2 separate regions of the Homo sapiens genome follow, and region 1 is linked to region 2. Evidence: fine-mapped expression QTL. A gene starts in region 2. The other region holds a variant in brackets. All regions are shown on one strand. Distances are between the middles of the regions.

What was found.
Region 1: its variant is fine-mapped to the expression of TRIM8 in whole blood (TOPMed, PIP above 0.99).

The regions. Positions count from the first base shown.
Region 1 is chr10:102,566,289-102,574,811 of GRCh38, forward strand. The region is part of intron 3 of SUFU (SUFU negative regulator of hedgehog signaling); the gene reads left to right. It also overlaps the pseudogene RPL23AP58. Among named protein-coding and RNA genes, the nearest start is that of SUFU, 67 kb to the left of the region's middle. RefSeq lists an enhancer at 1-89. The variant A/G (reference allele first, on the strand shown) is at 4,945.
Region 2 is chr10:102,639,678-102,647,677 of GRCh38, forward strand. TRIM8 (tripartite motif containing 8) reads left to right here and starts at 4,802. Exons shown (of 6, transcript NM_030912.3): 1 at 4,802-5,510. The coding sequence starts at 4,941. TRIM8-DT (TRIM8 divergent transcript) reads right to left here and starts at 3,512. Exons shown (of 1, transcript NR_186489.1): 1 at 3,115-3,512. RefSeq lists silencers at 1,775-2,069, 2,502-3,131, 3,462-3,521, 3,792-3,891, 3,972-4,951 and 1 more and enhancers at 3,440-4,194, 4,195-4,950, 5,052-5,181, 5,962-6,061.

The DNA of each region.
Region 1 (8,523 bases), 73 kb before region 2:
AGGTAGTGTTCCTAATGCAGACCCTAGCATTATACATAGAAACAATCAATATTATTTATGGCTGGGTGCAGTGTCTCACGCCTGTAACCCCATTACTTTGGGAGGCTGAGATGGGTGGATCACCTGAGGTCAGGAATTCGAGACCAGCGGGGCCAACATGGTGAAACCACGTCTCTATTAAAAGTACAAAAATTAGGTCAGGCGCGGTAGCTCACGCCTATAATCCCAGCACTTTGGGAGGCCAAGGGGGCGGCTCACAGGGTCAGGAGTTCTAGACCAGCCTGGCCAACATAGTGAAACCCCGTCTCTACTAAAAAATACAAAAAATAAACCAGGCGTGGTGGCGGGCGCCTGTAATCCCAGCTACTTGGGAGGCTGAGGCAGGAGAATCGCCTGAACTTGGGAGGCGGAGGTTGCAGTGAGCCGAGATTATGCCATTGCACTCCAGCCCAGGCAATAATGTGAGACTCTGTCTCAAAAAAAAAAAAAAAAAAAAGTACAGAAATTAGCCGGGCATGGTGGTGGGCACCTGTATAGTCCCAGCTACTCAGGAGGCTGAGGCAGGAGAATCACTTGAACCCGGAAGGCGGAGGTTGCAGTGAGCCGAGATTGTGCCACTGCACTCCAGCCTGGGTGACAGAGCGACTCCATCTCAAAAAAAAAAAAAGTTTATGTTGTTGTTTAAGAAGCACATTGCAAAAGAAAAGGAAACAGGCTCTTTTTTTTTTTTTTTTTTTTTTTGAGACAGAGTCTCGCTGTGTTGCTCAGGCTGGAGTGCAGTGACACAATCTCGGCTCACTGCAACCTCTGCCTCCCGGGTTCATGCCATTCTCCTGCCTCAGCCTCCCTAGTAGCTGGAATTACAGGTGCCCACCACCATGCCCTGCTAATTTTTTGTATTTTTATTAGAGACGGGGTTTCACTGTGTTAGCCAGGAGGGTCTCGATCTCCTGACCTCGTGATCCGCCTGCCTCGGCCTCCCAAAGTGCTGGGATTACAGGCGTGAGCCACTGCGCCCCATCCAAAACCTGTCAAGAAAAAAAAAGGCCAGGGCAGTGGCTTTCTTACTCAGTTTCTTCATAGCTCTCTCAGTGGAAAATGACTGGCACCCGTAAGCCATACACAGTACTGCTTGAGATTCCCTGGGAGTGGGTCTCCACCGCCAGGCCTGTCTTCTTGCCTTGCAGGGCAGACATGAGGACAAGCTTGTTGTTTAGGTTCTTCCCAGGACTCAAGGACCAAGAGAACAGAATGGCCCTCCCTCGAGGGTTCTGATGAGGTTCAAGCAGCATTTCTGACTCCTCACAGAGCCCTCTCTCTGGACAGATGACAGTTGGAGCTTGAGCCAGGGGAGGAAGAGAAAAGGGAGGGAATTCGGGTGCTTTTAAAGAGGGATTGCAGCACACCCAGGCAGTGGATTGTTGTTTTGCTGGCATGCAGCAGGTAGACTCTGAAACAGCAGTGGGGGTCCTTCTCTGCCTTGTCCTGCTTGGCCCAGTGGAAGCTGCATACCTGGGGCACTGTGCTGGGCAGGGAACACATCTCTGGGAGAGGCTATAGCCCAATATCCCCTAGCCCCAGGCCTAGCTCCAGCAGCCTATGTTTGGCTTTGAAGATTTAGGAAGAACAGGACACTATCAACCTCCTGGGCCAACCGGGCATGTCTAGGTCCTCCTGTATTGAGTACCGTGGTGATCTGAACACAGGAAAACCTTGTCCTTTGCTTCTCTTTACTGGGCCACTCACATCACACATTCATTGTCTTCTGTCCTTGGCTGGTACACTTTTATTCCCCCAAACAAATATAACATTATTGTTTTCCCTAATTACAAAAAGGACATTAAAAAAATCCAGGCAACACTGAAAACATAAAGAAACCTTGTCGCAGAACAATGGGTAGAGTGGAGTTTCATTTTTACTTAAAAAAAAAAAAAAGTATGACTTTGATTATACATGCTGAAAAGAAAGTCTTAAAGACTGCATATCAGATGTTAACAGCAAATGTTAATAGCTGAGAAATGGGACTGATGGGAAAAGAGATTTTCATGTTTTACTTTATACATTTCTTTGTTGTTTGACTCTCTTATAATAAGCCTATGTTACTTTGTAACTTAAATAAATATATGTTGAAAACAAAAATAAATATTATGCTGCTGAGACAGCCATTTTTATTTGGTTACTATCCTTCTAGATATGTCTCTATACAAAAAATAGGCAGTTGTACTAAGTACTGTATATATTAACATGCTTTATTCACACAGCATCATGTCATGGAAGTCTTTCTAGCTAAGTAACTATAGTTCAGCCGGGCACAGTGGCTCACGCCTGTAATCCCAGCACTTTGGAAGGCCAAGGCAGGTGGATCACCTGAGGTCAGGAGTTCAAGACCAGCTTGGCCAATGTGATGAAACCCTGTCTCTGCTAAAAATACAAAAATTATCTGGGTGAGGTGGCGGGCGCCTGTAATCCCAGCTACTTGGGAGGCTGAGGCAGGAGAATCACTTGAACCTGGGAGGCGGAGGTTGCAGTGAGCCAAGATTGCACTATTGCACTCCAGCCTGGGCGACAAGAGCAAAACTCTGTCTCAAAAAAAAAAAAAAAAAAAAAAAATATATATATATATATATATATACACATATATATATATATATATATATATATATATATATATATATCTATAGCAGTGCTTGTAATTGTATGGCATTTCATTGTATGATACTAACATAACAGGCCCCTCTAGGATAAATAGACCCCTCTGGATGAACTTGCAGATAGTTTCCAGTTTTCCCTATTTTAAACAACACTATAAGATTGTTGCCCATATATGAACATCTTGGCAACTGCGTCCAATTATCTCAGGATCAGTTTCTAAAGTGGGATTGTGGGTCACAAGGTCCGCAGATTTTACAGTTTGGCACATATGCCCAGCTCTCCTTTTGAAGGTGATTCCACTAGGCAGGGTGGCCCCTGCCGCGGCTGCCACTGTGTTCTCACCTGTAGTCATGGCCATTTGGCAGTCCAGGCACTGAGGAAGCACTGTGTAGTCTTTCAAGTCCGTAAAATAAGACACAGGACTCTTCCCACTCTTGATAGCTTTAAAGCTGGCCGTATTCCAACATTAAGGAAGTTCTTTGAGGCTGGAGGCCCACAGGCTACTCAGACTCTGTGGCTCTTGGAAAGCCCTGCACTACCTGAGTTCACCCTCACAACTCAGTCCCTTCTCTATCTCTCCAAGCAGGTAGAAATGTCCTGGAAGAGTCTGGCCTGAACACCAAAAGGGTTCACTAATGATTTATTGCTATCTCTTCCTATAATCAAATCACCCAAAATTGGTTATCTAAACCCCTTTCCTGTATCTGATTGGTAGGGAAACTTTGAAATTTGGGCAGGTACATAGACGGCTGAGGGGCTGTTCTTTATACAGATACTCAGAGGTAAGTGCCTGCCTCATGTCCGTCTCTGACCCAACAGCCCCTTCTGGGTGCAACATTCAACAAGGGATTTAAACCAATCAGAGTGTGTCCAGAGAATGGTGGCATTCAAACTGGCAAAACCTTTCAAAACTGTCCATCTATGAGGAATGACTATAAAAGTGAGGTAACTGGAAATATTCTAGTTTGAAGACGAAAAGACTTTGAGATGGAATATGTAGGGAGTTGAACTATGACCCACAACAGGTATTTAAAAATAGCTGAGGTCTTCCCATATGGAAAAGGGATTTGACTTTTTGTTACTCAGAATAGAGAGCTAGAAAGCTGTTAACTCTTCATTGGGATGTAGAAGAATTTCCAAATGTGGATAGGCACTGGGAGGCAGTAAACTCACCATCCCTGAAGTTTTCCTAGTCGTCTGGGCAGTTGCTGGCCCAGGCGCTTGTAGAGGGGATTTAAGCGCTGGGTGTGCAGTTGGTGATTTGGGAATCTAGATTGCCGAACCGAGAGAATATTTATTTATTTATTTATTTATTTATTGAGACGGAGTCTTGTTCTGTTGCCCAGGCTGGAGTGCAGTGGTGCAATCTCGGCTCACTGCAACCTCCGCCTCCCAGGTTCAAGCAATTCTCTTGCCTCAGCCTCTCAAGTAGCTGGGACTACAGGCACACGCCACCACGCCTGGCTAATTCTTATATTTTTTAGTAGAGACGGAGTTTCACCATGTTGACCAGGCTGGTCTCGAACTCCTGACTTTGTGATCCGCCTGCCTCGGTCTCCCAAAGGAGACCATTTATTAATGCTGGGGTTTTTTTAGTTTTTTGTTTGTTTGTTTTCTAATCGGTATTTTTGTGACCCCTTCTTCTGTGTTCCAGTCTGGTTTCTTGCAAACAAGTCCTTCCCCCTTCCTCTTCTCGATGCTTCCCAGGTCCTCCAGGTCTGACCCAGCTGGGTGACTTCTGAGAACATCCATAAGTACTATAGCTGTGCTTCTTGGTGTAAACTAAGGCAGGAAGAAGGGAGTTAGTTTCCTAAGCTGAAAATTAGAATCGTGGCTCCTCGAAGAAAACATCTGCTCTTCCTATGTGGGTGGATTCTATGTCTGTGTCTCAGTTCTACTGGATCCTTCTGTCTTCATTTCTTTTTGTGTAAATAGTGGCCATATTTTCCAGTGGTCAGATCTTTCAAATGAATAGCAACTGTTTAATTTGTACAGTATTTTCAGTACACAAGGCAATTTTTACATATTTTGTTTTCTTGGATTCTAAAAAAAAAACCAAAACCTTCAAGGTGTACAGTATATCATCACATCATGTTTTGGTAGGTGAAAAAACAGATGCAGAGAAGTTAAGTGGCTTCTTCAAGGTTACACAGTAAGAAAATCGTATCAGAGAATAAAGCTAAGAGAGGAGACTCTTAACTAGAGGATCTGATTTTGTCTTGAACAGGAGGGTATACATAATACATTTTGGGTGACTATTTGCACCCATGACCTGATAGAAGAAAAATAGTC[A/G]GTACTAATAAGTAACGGTTTCACCTTACACTAAGATGGCCAGTGACTGAGCTAAAGAGAAGTTAGTGTTTCATTAATTTATCTTTTTTTGGGTTGCTGGGGATGAGGCCAACCAAAATTCTCTCTGGGTTAAAAGTTGATGTTTAAGGAGGCCGGGCACAGTGGCTGACGCCTGTAATCCCAGCACTTTGGGAGGCTGAGGTGGGTGGATCACTTGAGGCCAGGATTTCAAGACCAGCCTGGGCAACATGCCGAAACCCTGTCTCTACTAAAAAACAAACAAACAAAACAAACAAACAAACAAAAAATTAGCCAGGCATGGTGGTGCACACCTGTAATTCCAGCTACTTGGGAGACTAAGGCAGGAGAATCATTTGAACCTGGGAGACAGAGGTTGCAGTGAGTCAAGATTGCGCCACTGCACTCTAGCCTGGGCGACAGAGCAAGACTCTGTTTCAAAAAACAAAACAACAACAAAAAATTAGTGGCTTAAAACCCAATTTCTGTGTGTCTCAAGTTTGGACACAGCTTATCTCTAGGTCCTCTGGCCAGGGCCTTGCAAGGCTACAATTAAGGTGTTTACCATGCTGCATTCTTTTCTTTTCTTTTTTTTCCTTGTTCATATACAGGCTGCATTCTTATTTGAGGCTCCCCTGGAGAAGAATATGCTTCCAAGTTCCGTCAGGTTGTTGACAGAATTCCTTTCCTTGCAACTTTAGGATTCAAGGCAGCTTGCTTCTTTAAAGCAGCAATGGAGGAAGAGTCTGACGTTTGTGTAGGGGTACAGTTCCCTTTTAAAGGGCTTTTACCTGTTTCAGTCAAGTCCACCCAGGAGAATCTCTTTTTTTCTGAGATGGAGTTTCACTCTTGTTGCCCAGGCTGGAGTGCAATGATATGATCTTGGCTCATTGCAAACTCCGCCTCCCAGGTTCAAGCCATTCTCCTGCCTCAGCCTCCCGAGTAGCTGGGATTACAGGCACCGGCCACCACGCCTGGATAATTTTTTTTTTTTTTTGTAATTTTAGTAGAGGACGGGTTTCATCATGTTGGTCAGGCTGGTCTGGAACTCCTGACCTCAGGTGATCCGTCTGCCTCGGCCTCCCAAAGTGCTGGGATTACAGGTGTGAGCCACCGTGACCGGCCTCTCCCCTTTTTCTTTCTTTTTTTTTTTTTTTGAGACAGAGTCTCACTCTATTGCCCAGGTTGGAGTGTAGTGGCGCGATCTTGGCTCACTACAACCTCTGCCACCCGGGTTCAAGCAATTCTCCTGCCCCAGCCTCCTGAGTAGCTGGGATTACAGGCACCTGCCACCACACCCGGCTACTTTTTGTATTTTTAGTACAGATGGGGTTTTGCCATCTTGCCCAGGCTGATCTTGAACCCCTGACCTCGTGATCCACCCTCCTTGGCCTCCCAAACTGCTGAGATTACAGGTGTGAGTGAGCCACCATGCCCAGCCTTTTTTTTGTTGTTGTTATGGTGAAAAGATATACATATATTTAGAATTACCCAGCTGGACTCAGTTTAAATGATCCCAATTTTGTTGGCAACATCCAAAGCATCGTAATCAGGAGCCAGTCCAACATATGCCTTCTTCTCTCCATCACGCTGAATCAGGGTGTTGACCTTGGTCACATCAGTGTCATAGAGCTTCTTCACAGCCTATTTGATCTGGTGCTTGTTGGCTTTAACATCCACAGTGAACACAAGTGTGTTGTTGTCTTCTATCTTCTTCATGGCAGACTCAGTGGTCAGTGGAAACTTGATGATAGCATAGTGGTCAAGCTTGTTCTCCGGGGTTGGTCTTCTGAGGGTACTTGGGCTGCCTCCAGAATCGCAGTGTCTTGGGCCGCTGGAAGGTAGGTGACGTGCGGATCTTCTTTTTTTTGTGGCTGTGGACACCTTTCAACACTGCCTTCTTGGCCTTCAAAGCCTTTGCTTTGGCTTCGGCTTTAGGAGGAGCAGGAGCTTCCTTCTTTGCTTTCGGCACCGTCTTGTGAAAAGGGCCTCCATTTTAATTAACACAAAATCATCTACTTTGGCCTCACAGCCGTTAGAATGGCTACTATCAAAAAAAGAAAAAACAAAACAAAACAGAAAATAGTATGTTAGCAAGCATGTGAAGAAATTGGCACCCTTGTACACTGTTGATAGGAATGTAAAATGGTGCAGCTGCTGTGGAAAATGGTCTGGTGCTTCTTCAGAAAGTTCAAAATGGAATTACTGTATGATCCAGCAATCTCACCTCTGGGTATGTGTCCAAAAGAATTGAAAGCAGGGACTTGAACAGATATTTGTGCACCAGTTTTCATAGCATCCAAAAAGTGGAAGTAACTCAAGTGTCCATCAACAGATGAATGGGTAAACAAAGTATGGTATATACATATAATGGAATATTACTCAGCCTTAATAAAAGGAAGGAAATTCTGCCACATGCTGCAGGCTACAACATGGATGAACCCAGGAGACATTATGGCAAGTGAAATAAGCCAGACACAAAAAGACAAATATTGTATGATTCCACTTACATAAGGTACTTAGAGTAGTTAGGTTCATAGAGACAGAAGGCAAAATGTTGGTTTCCAGGGGTTGGAAGCAGTGGAATGGGGAGTTACTGTTTACTGTATAGAGTTTCAGTTGGGGAAGATGAAAAAAAGTCCTGGAAATGGAAGCTTCTTATGGTTGCACAACAATATGAATGTACTTAATGCCACTTAAAAATGGCTAAATTGGTGAATTTTATGTTGATGTATTTTACTACAACTAAAACTGAAAAAAAAATTAATAAATGATTTGGGATGTTACTTTACATCTTTAAAATATCTTTACTTTTGCCATATTCTGTTAGCAAGAAGCAAGTTATAGGTCTCGCCCACACTTGGGGGAAAGTATTAGACAGGGCTTGAGTACCAAGGGGATTGGGGACCATGGGGGCACCTTAGAGTCTGTCTGCCACATTTCCTAAAACTCAGAAGCAAAATAAAACAAGTGAAATTCACAGCATACCAAATTGGTGTCAAAACAATATACAGAGATCTTAAACTATAGTAATTTGTCTGTATATCCCTAATATATACACAAAGACAGAAAAAACTGTTTTCAGTAATCATGTTGTTAATAAAAATATTGACTTTAACCTAAAACTAGTATATGGATATAATAGGATAAAGCAAATAAGTAATTATGTTAGAAAGCAAGATGTTCAGCATAAGATTAGAAAGATACAAATATATGGCCAGGCGTTGTGGCTCACATTTGTAGTGCCAGCTGTTTGAGAGGCTAAGACGAGAGGATTGCTTGAGCCCAGGAATTTGAGCCTGCAGTGAGCTGTAATTGTGCCACTACACTCTAGCCTGAGTGACACAGTGAGACCTTGTCTCTAAAACAGTAATAAAATAAATAAAAGATACAAATATAAAATCAAATAAGTAAAAATGTTATATTCTTAAATTTGGATTCTAATTAGCAAGATGAACAAAAGATGTGTTTTCTCTTTCTTTTAAAAAAAATGTATTTTATCTTCGTCACTAAAAAAGCCTTGAAACAGGCCGGGCACAGTGGCTCCTGTAATCCCAGCAC
Region 2 (8,000 bases):
TGTGCAGACAGCATAGCCAGTTACACAGATCTGCAACCAGGAGGTGAGGATTTAGCCTGGAGATACTGACTGGGGAGTCATCAGCATGTAGATGGTAATAAAGCTCAGGAGTAAATGAGATAGCCCCAGGGTGTAGATTGGTAAGAGAAGAGGATGGAAAGCAGAACTCTGAAGACTGCCAACATTTATGAGATGGAAATTGGAGACATCTATGATTAGAAGATAAGAAGAAAACGACAAGCATATGATATCTTACAAGTTAAGGGGAGTGTTCAAAAAAGACAAGAAGTGAGGAATTGTTTAGATTGTTTATCCTGGAGGTCACTGGTGAGGAGGTCAGAAAGGGCCCTCCAACTGCTTCCAAGCTAGACCTTCTTTCTTTGCACCATCCTTACAGCATGGAATTGAGGATTAGGGCTTAGAAGCCACTTTCTCCTTGTTTGTTCATTCATTCATTTATTCACATATTCACTTGCCCTGCATATAACCCCCCATGTGAAGAGATACAAAACACTAAAGACAGGCTCTGTCATCAGAGGATCAGGGACCCAGGGGTCATACTGAACTAGATTTCAATCTCAGTTCTACCATTTAGAACATAATCTTTGATGACTCCAAAATCCCTATCTCCAGGACAAACATCCCCACTGGGCCTGTATATACAATTGTCTCCTCAATATTTCCATTGGGATATGAGCCAACTCAACTTAGAAAATCCCTTTACTCACCAGCCTGGGCAACATGGTGAAACCCTCACTCTACAAAAAAATACAAAAATTTAGCTGGGCTGTTTTGTGAGCTTGTAGTCCTAGCTACTCAGGTGGCTGAGGAGGTAGGATCACCTGAGCCTGGGAAGTTGAGGCTGCAGTGAGCCATGATTGCGCCACTGCACTCAAGCCAGGGCAACAGGGTGAAACCCTGTCTCAAAAAAAAAGAAAAGAAAAGAAAAGAAAAGAGAAAATAGAGAAGAAAAGAAAATACCCTTACTCAAATAATCTAATCCTGTTCAATTTTCCCCTTTTTAGTAAATGGTGCTACCATCAGCCTTTTGTTGAGATCCAAATCCTAGGAATCATTTTTAAAACATTTTTGGAGGATAGAAGGGAAAAATATAGAGTATAAATATTATAGTATAGCCTGGCATGGAGGCTGACGCCTGTAATCCTAGCACTTTGGGAGGCCAACGCAGCTGGATTACCTGAGGTCAGGAGTTTGAGACCAGGCTTACCAATATAGTGAAACCTTGTCTCTACTAAAAATACAAAATTAGCCAAGCGTGGTGGTGCATGCCTGTAACCCCAGCTACTCAGGAGGCTGAGGCAGGAGAATCACTTGAACCCTGGAGGCGGAGGTTGGAGTGAGCCGAGATCACGCCATTGCACTCCAGCCCGAGCAACAAGAGTGAAACTTGTCTCAAAAAACAATAATTATAGTATATATAATATATGGTATATTATAGTATATATATGGTATAGTATATATGGTATATTATAGTATATAATATATGGTATAGTATATATATGGTATATTATAGTATATATAATATATGGTATGGTATATATAACATGGTATATTATAGCATATATAATATACACTATAAATACATATAATACATATAGTATATTTATACTATATACTTATCACCATATACTGTATATCCTATACTAGATATAATATGTACTATATATAATAGTATACTATACTTTTATAGTGTACTTATAATATATAGTATCTTATACTATACTTATATAGCACACTTATAATAAGCGTACTATTATATAATATATAATAGATATATAAGGAAGGCCCTGTGTGTTCTGGCCCCTACCTTTCTTCCTGGACACATGGCCTTCTTTCTGTCCTGGAACCTGCCTGTTCTATTGCTTTTGCATTTGTTTTTTCTTCCGACTGGATCGCTCCTCCCCCAGGTTTCACCTATCTGACTCTTTGTGTGCATTCAGGTCCCAGCTCAAATGTCACTTTTTCAGAAAGCCTTTGTGTGAGCCTGTTATTCTCTATCACGTAAATTGTCCTCCGTGTATTTACGTTAAATTTTTTGTACGTTTTTCTGGGAATTCTCAGGGCCTAGAAAAATATTTTGTTAAAGATTTATTGACTGACCATTGACCTTGGCAGATTTCTGCAGTTCTTTAAGCCATGGTTTCCTTATTAATAGAGGAATAAATGCCTATCTTGCTAGGTAGTTTAAAGTGCCAGGGATGAAGTTAAAAGTATTAAGGACATCGGGAAATCTCCCCACACTGAACCTTTGCATTTCCCTGCTCAGTTCCACCGGACTGCTGAGCAGACCGACAAACGCTCCTTTCCCTCTGGGTAAAAAGAGCCACGGGTCTTCACTTCAGGCCCAGGAAGAGGTGGTCCCACTACGCCGTGGCATCATCGCTTTTTTAACAAGCGCGGAAAACCCCCTCCCATCCCAATGTTTAATGTACCGAAGTTTGTGAGAGTCACGTGAGACTCTCGGGTCTGCCCCGCCTTAGGGAGGTGGAGCCTCAGCTTGTGGGCCAATAGCAGGAGCAGCCTCCGGAACAGCCCCAACGCGACAGGGAAAGGGGGAGGAGCCGGGCGCCCGGCCCTGTAACTGTACTTCCGGAAAGCACGCCCCGCCCCTTCCCCCCCACCGCGCCCGTTTCTTTCGCCAGTGCCGGGTGGGCCGAACCGGCGGGTGCCGATTAAAGGCGCCGCCTGCCGCTTTCTCCTCGCCCCCCAGCGCCGCAGCTCTCCGCCCCCTTCCCGAGTAGCGGGACCGGCCTTGATGTAGGGACACCACCCCCCGTCTCCTTCCGCCCCAGCCCGGGAGCTCGGCTCGCTGCAGCCCCTGGCCCTCCCGTTTCCCCACCCTGCCTGCCCCGCTCTGCTCCGAACCCATTGTATACGGCCGGCTGCGGACTCCCAGGCCGGGCCGTGGCGGGGGCCCCGGGACCCCCGAGTGCCCCTCCGGCTGGTCCCGCGGGCCGCGGCATCTCCGCCGCCGCCTTCCTCGCGGCGGCGGCGAGGGCGCCCTTTCCTCCCCGCGCGGGTGACGGGGACGCACCCCCACCCCGGGGCGCCCCTTCGCGGGGGGAGAGCCGGGCCCGAGCAAGTCGAGGCAGGAAAGGGCCGCCACGGACTGCCCGGCCCGCCGATCGTTTTTATTATCGAGATTATTATTAAAAGGGGGCGGGGACCCCAGGACGCGGGGGAGGGGCTGGATACGCAGGTATTTTTATTAAACAGATTATTCCTGAAATAATAATACGCGCAAGATGGCTGAAGGTGGCTGTGATGAGAGTGTTGGGGTTGGGATTTTTTTCTTCCTGTTTTTTCTTTTTTGATCTGAGGATAAAGCTCTGAGGCGACAGCGGCTGCGGAGACCCTGCCCGAAGCGCCCTCCCCTCCCTTGAGAAGCCGCGGGCAGACAGACGGACCTCGGACCGAGCAACGGGTGCGGGCCCGCCCCGGACGCGTCGCCTGGGCAGCAGCCGGGGACCGCGGGCTCTCGCCTTTCTGCCGACTTCTTCCAATTCTCATCTTCTTTTATTTTTTGGACAGGACCGGGGTGGGTGGAGCAGAGGTGGAGAGAAATCGGGACTTGGCATTTTCTCCCTCTCTCTCTCCTAATTTGTTGGAGGCCGCCAGCCCTCCCCTTGGAAAAAAAAAAATCCCACCAAAAAAAAAAAAAAAAGAATCAGGAGCGAGAGGACGCCGCGGGGCCCTCAGCGAGCGCGCCCAGACCCCGGCCGCCGCCGCGGAGCCCAAGATGGCTGGGCGCTGAGGGTGGCGGCTCGGCCTGGCCCCGCCGCCGCAGGCTGGCTCCGACCGCAGCCCCGAGCCTTCCAGGCCCCAGCAGAGGCCGAGAAGAAAAGAAAGTGGGGAGGAGGGGGCCGGGGGGGCGAAGGGGGAGGGCCGGGGGAGGGGAGGGGAGGGCCGGGAGCCGAGCCTCCTGTTCATTAGCAGTTGAGAAAAATTCCTTTCTAGTTTGATCAATCCTTGTTTTCCTCGGCAGAGCCCGGGCGCCCGCCCAGCGCGGAGACGGGCGCGCGGGGTCTCTCCGCGGCGGGGGCGCCGGGCCTCGGGGGAGCGCAGAAGTAGCCGCCCGGGGGTCAGGCCGGAGCGCCGCCGGGGCTTCTCCCTCCCTCCCTCGCCGGTTGCCTTTTTTTCCACTTCTCTCCCTCCCCCTTCCGTTTCTATTTGTGAAGGGAGGAGGAAGGCAGAGGCGGGCTGGTGTCTCTGGCCGGGGACTGGAATTTCATCTGAATGACTGCCCCTGCGCGCACGCAGCGCCCCGGAGTCGGCCCGCCCGCGCCCCGCAGCCCGCGCCCGGCCAGCCAGCCGGGGGACGCCTGCACCGTGGCCCGGGGACCGCCGGCCTGCCCCTCCCGCCCCGTCCGGATCTAGCAGCCCTCGGCGCGGCCGCCCTCGCCTCCTGGCCCCGCAGACCCCGGGCTCCGGCCCCTGCGAGGGAGGTGCGGCGCCGACGAGCCAGGCAGGAGCCGCCGCTGCCGCCGCCGCCGGAAGAAGTGTGCTGCTCCCAAGCTCCGTCTGCCGCGGGGCGCGCCCCAATGTCAGCCGCGGGGACGAGCGCAGGCCGCGGGCCGCCACTGCCCTAGCCGCGCCGACGGGGAGGCGGCCTCTTATATGGAATTTGGACCCCGGCGCTCCCCTCCAAGGCTGGAGTCCCGGCCGCGGCCCTGGCGCAGTCCGCCGCCTCCCGCTAGGCGCTCGGGAGGAGGAGGAGACGCAGCCCGCTGCGCGCGCGGCGTGAGGACCGCGGCTCCCTCCTCCGGGGGGCGGGCACGCGGAAGGCGCTGCTGACTGAGCGACCGTCGGGGCCGGCTGGGGCCGGAGCTCGGGGCTCGGTGGGCCTACAGCGGCTCCGGACGGACCCCCGGGGCTGGGGAGTCGGGGAGGCCTGCCCCGGCCCCCTGCCCGCGGCCGCCATGGCGGAGAATTGGAAGAACTGCTTCGAGGAGGAGCTCATCTGCCCTATCTGCCTGCACGTTTTCGTGGAGCCAGTGCAGCTGCCGTGCAAACACAACTTCTGCCGGGGCTGCATCGGCGAGGCGTGGGCCAAGGACAGCGGCCTCGTACGCTGCCCAGAGTGCAACCAGGCCTACAACCAGAAGCCGGGCCTGGAGAAGAACCTGAAGCTCACCAACATCGTGGAGAAGTTCAATGCCCTGCACGTGGAGAAGCCGCCGGCGGCGCTGCACTGCGTGTTCTGCCGCCGCGGCCCCCCGCTGCCCGCGCAGAAGGTCTGCCTGCGCTGCGAGGCGCCCTGCTGCCAGTCCCACGTGCAGACGCACCTGCAGCAGCCCTCCACCGCCCGCGGGCACCTCCTGGTGGAGGCGGACGACGTGCGGGCCTGGAGCTGCCCGCAGCACAACGCCTACCGCCTCTACCACTGCGAGGCCGAGCAGGTGGCCGTGTGCCAGTACTGCTGCTACTACAGCGGCGCGCATCAGGGACACTCGGTGTGCGACGTGGAGATCCGAAGGAATGAAATCCGGGCAAGTACCCTACGCGCGCGCGCGCACACACACACACACAGACACACAGTCCCTTCCTCTCTCCCGCCCCGGGACCACCCATCCCGACAGGCTGACTCTTGTGACATCAGGCCAGTGGCCCCTGGCCAAACTCTTCTCTGAAAGTTTGGGGACAGGGTCCTGGGAAGAAGGGCCCCGGGTCGCTACTTGGTACATTCTCGCACCTGTGCGCACAGGGTCCGTCTTCTGAGTGCTTTATGGGATTGGGGTGTGGGACCGTCAGGGGTAGAGTCTGGGTGTTGCTTTTCTGTGGTGCGCAGCTCCCTCCCCCAGTCTTGTTGCTGTAGGCCCTACGGGAAGTCACCGAGGCAGTGACCCCGGTCCTGCCTCTCCAGCTGCTGTTTATGTAATGAGTGTCCCGGTGCCGCTGCTGTGGCTGACATGATCCATGATGCTGGCATACCAATGAGGAAGTAAACAAAAGCAGCCATGTTAGTTTTCAGCGCTATTGGAAACACACTGGGGGGGGAGTGGGGGGAGTTTCCAGAGGGAGAGCAGAACTCCGGCCGTCTCTCTGGACAGGGCCTGGGCAGCCAGCGAGGCCCCGACAGCGGCTCCGCTATTTGGATTCCTCCCGAGAGCCGGCTCTCCCTGTGTGAGAATCGCTGCCCTGTGTGCCTGTGTGTCGCACGGGCCGCATGAACAAGCCTTCAAGTATCTGTCTTCATCATCCTGGCCCTTTCGCCTAGCACAGCCCTCTCGCCGCCCTCCCACATTTGGGGAGGGGAAGTGGAAGACGGAAAAAGAATCCTGTGGGTTTAAGGTTGAGCCGCCTTGAAATCTGGTTTCAGGCAGCTGGCTCCCCTGGGCTGCCGGCTGGGTGATTACGGAACCGCGTCCCCTCCCATTGTATACACCCTGCGGCCGCGGCCAATGTCAAACCGCCTCCCCCCTCAGGCCTCTGGGCCTGGTTTTGGAGCTGGACTGAGGCAATACTTCCGTCCCCTTCAGTGGAGGGGGCTCCTCCTAGGTCCCTCCCCAGTCCTCTGGCTTTCAGGGTTGAGTCATACCAAAATGAAGGGGTTGGCCTGACACCGAGGAGTCCTCTCTGAAGCCCCACCTTGGGGCCTGGGGCCTGGGTGTGATATCTGGGGGCTAGGCTGCACTCTGGTGGGACTGGGAGTGTCTCTGGGTGGGGATCCCTGGAGGTTAGTGGAGGCCAGTGCGGAGGCTGGCTATGAGGAAGCTCTGTTCAGGGCATGATTGGAGATGGGGCTGTTTCCTGTGTGGGGGGACCAGTCAGAATGAGTCACTGTTTAGCAATTAAAAAACATACACATACAACCAACAAAAGGCAGGAGGGCCACCACAGGCTGGGGCGGGGGCAGCAAATACGATTTGCTGTATAATTAGTTTCCAATCGGATGGACTAGCCCTGGGTTTGTGTGCCAGGATAGGCCTCTGGTTTCTTAAAGGAAGTGTGTCCTCCACCCCCTGTGTCCTCCATCCCCGTTCAGGGCAGGCACAGCCCACACTTTCCCCAGTATTGGGAAGCTGCTGCTATTAATAAAGATGGAAGGGCTGGGGGAGGAGGCCGGGAAAAGTGCAGAGGCAGGAGAAAGGAGGGCTGTCCAGTTCTGTCCTGGGATTGGCAGTGGAAAATGAGAGGAGGGGAAAGGAGATGTGGCTGAAAGGAACAGGGGAGGGGCAGCAACCTGGGCGATGGGCGGATGCCTGCCCGCACCCACAGTGCTGCTGTAGCTGGTCTGAGTTCTAGGGATGTCTTTAATTGGGGTGGGGGAGAAAACGTCATTATACCTGACTTGGTGTAGGAGGATAGCTTTAGGTGTCTGTGTTTTTGAATGTCTTTGAGACTGTGTGCTTCGCCCTCCAATGCACCTGTCTCCTGTCTCTACAGTTCAGGGCACAGGCAGGGGTGGGTGGGTGGCATGTGCATGCAGAGTATTCCCTGGGGTGCCCCCCAGCAGGCCCCTCATTTCCAGACTCGTGGATTGGATGGAAGCAGGCACTGAACTTTGTCGGCAACTCCGCAGGGTGTGTGTGTGCGTGTGTGCGTGTGTGTGCGTGCGCGTGCATGCGCGTGCTTTCTTGTGCCTGGTGTGGGCAGGCTCAGAAGTAGTGGGTTGCATCAGGGCCAGATGTGCAATTCTGTGCGTTCAGCAGCTGTGCCCTGCAGTGGCAGCCTGAGCCTCATCCTTCTCCAGGTTCCCCCTCCCCAGGCCCCTGATTCTTTCTGGTGCCCCAGGCCACTGGGGTTGGAAACCCTTCAGTAGCCCAGTGTCACTCAAGTATGAGTTTGACTTATTGAATGTGGAGGAATAGGGGCCCTGCCTGCCCTCCCAGGAGGGAGAGGAGGGGGTGAACCATAGGAACCTAAATGGAAGAACCCTCTGCACTCTCTGTAGGCCAAACAGGGGGAGTGGGTGGAGCGCTCTTCCTTGGCCCCTTTTCTCTTCCCGGAGGGAGTCTGCCTTAAAGGGCCTTTGCTGG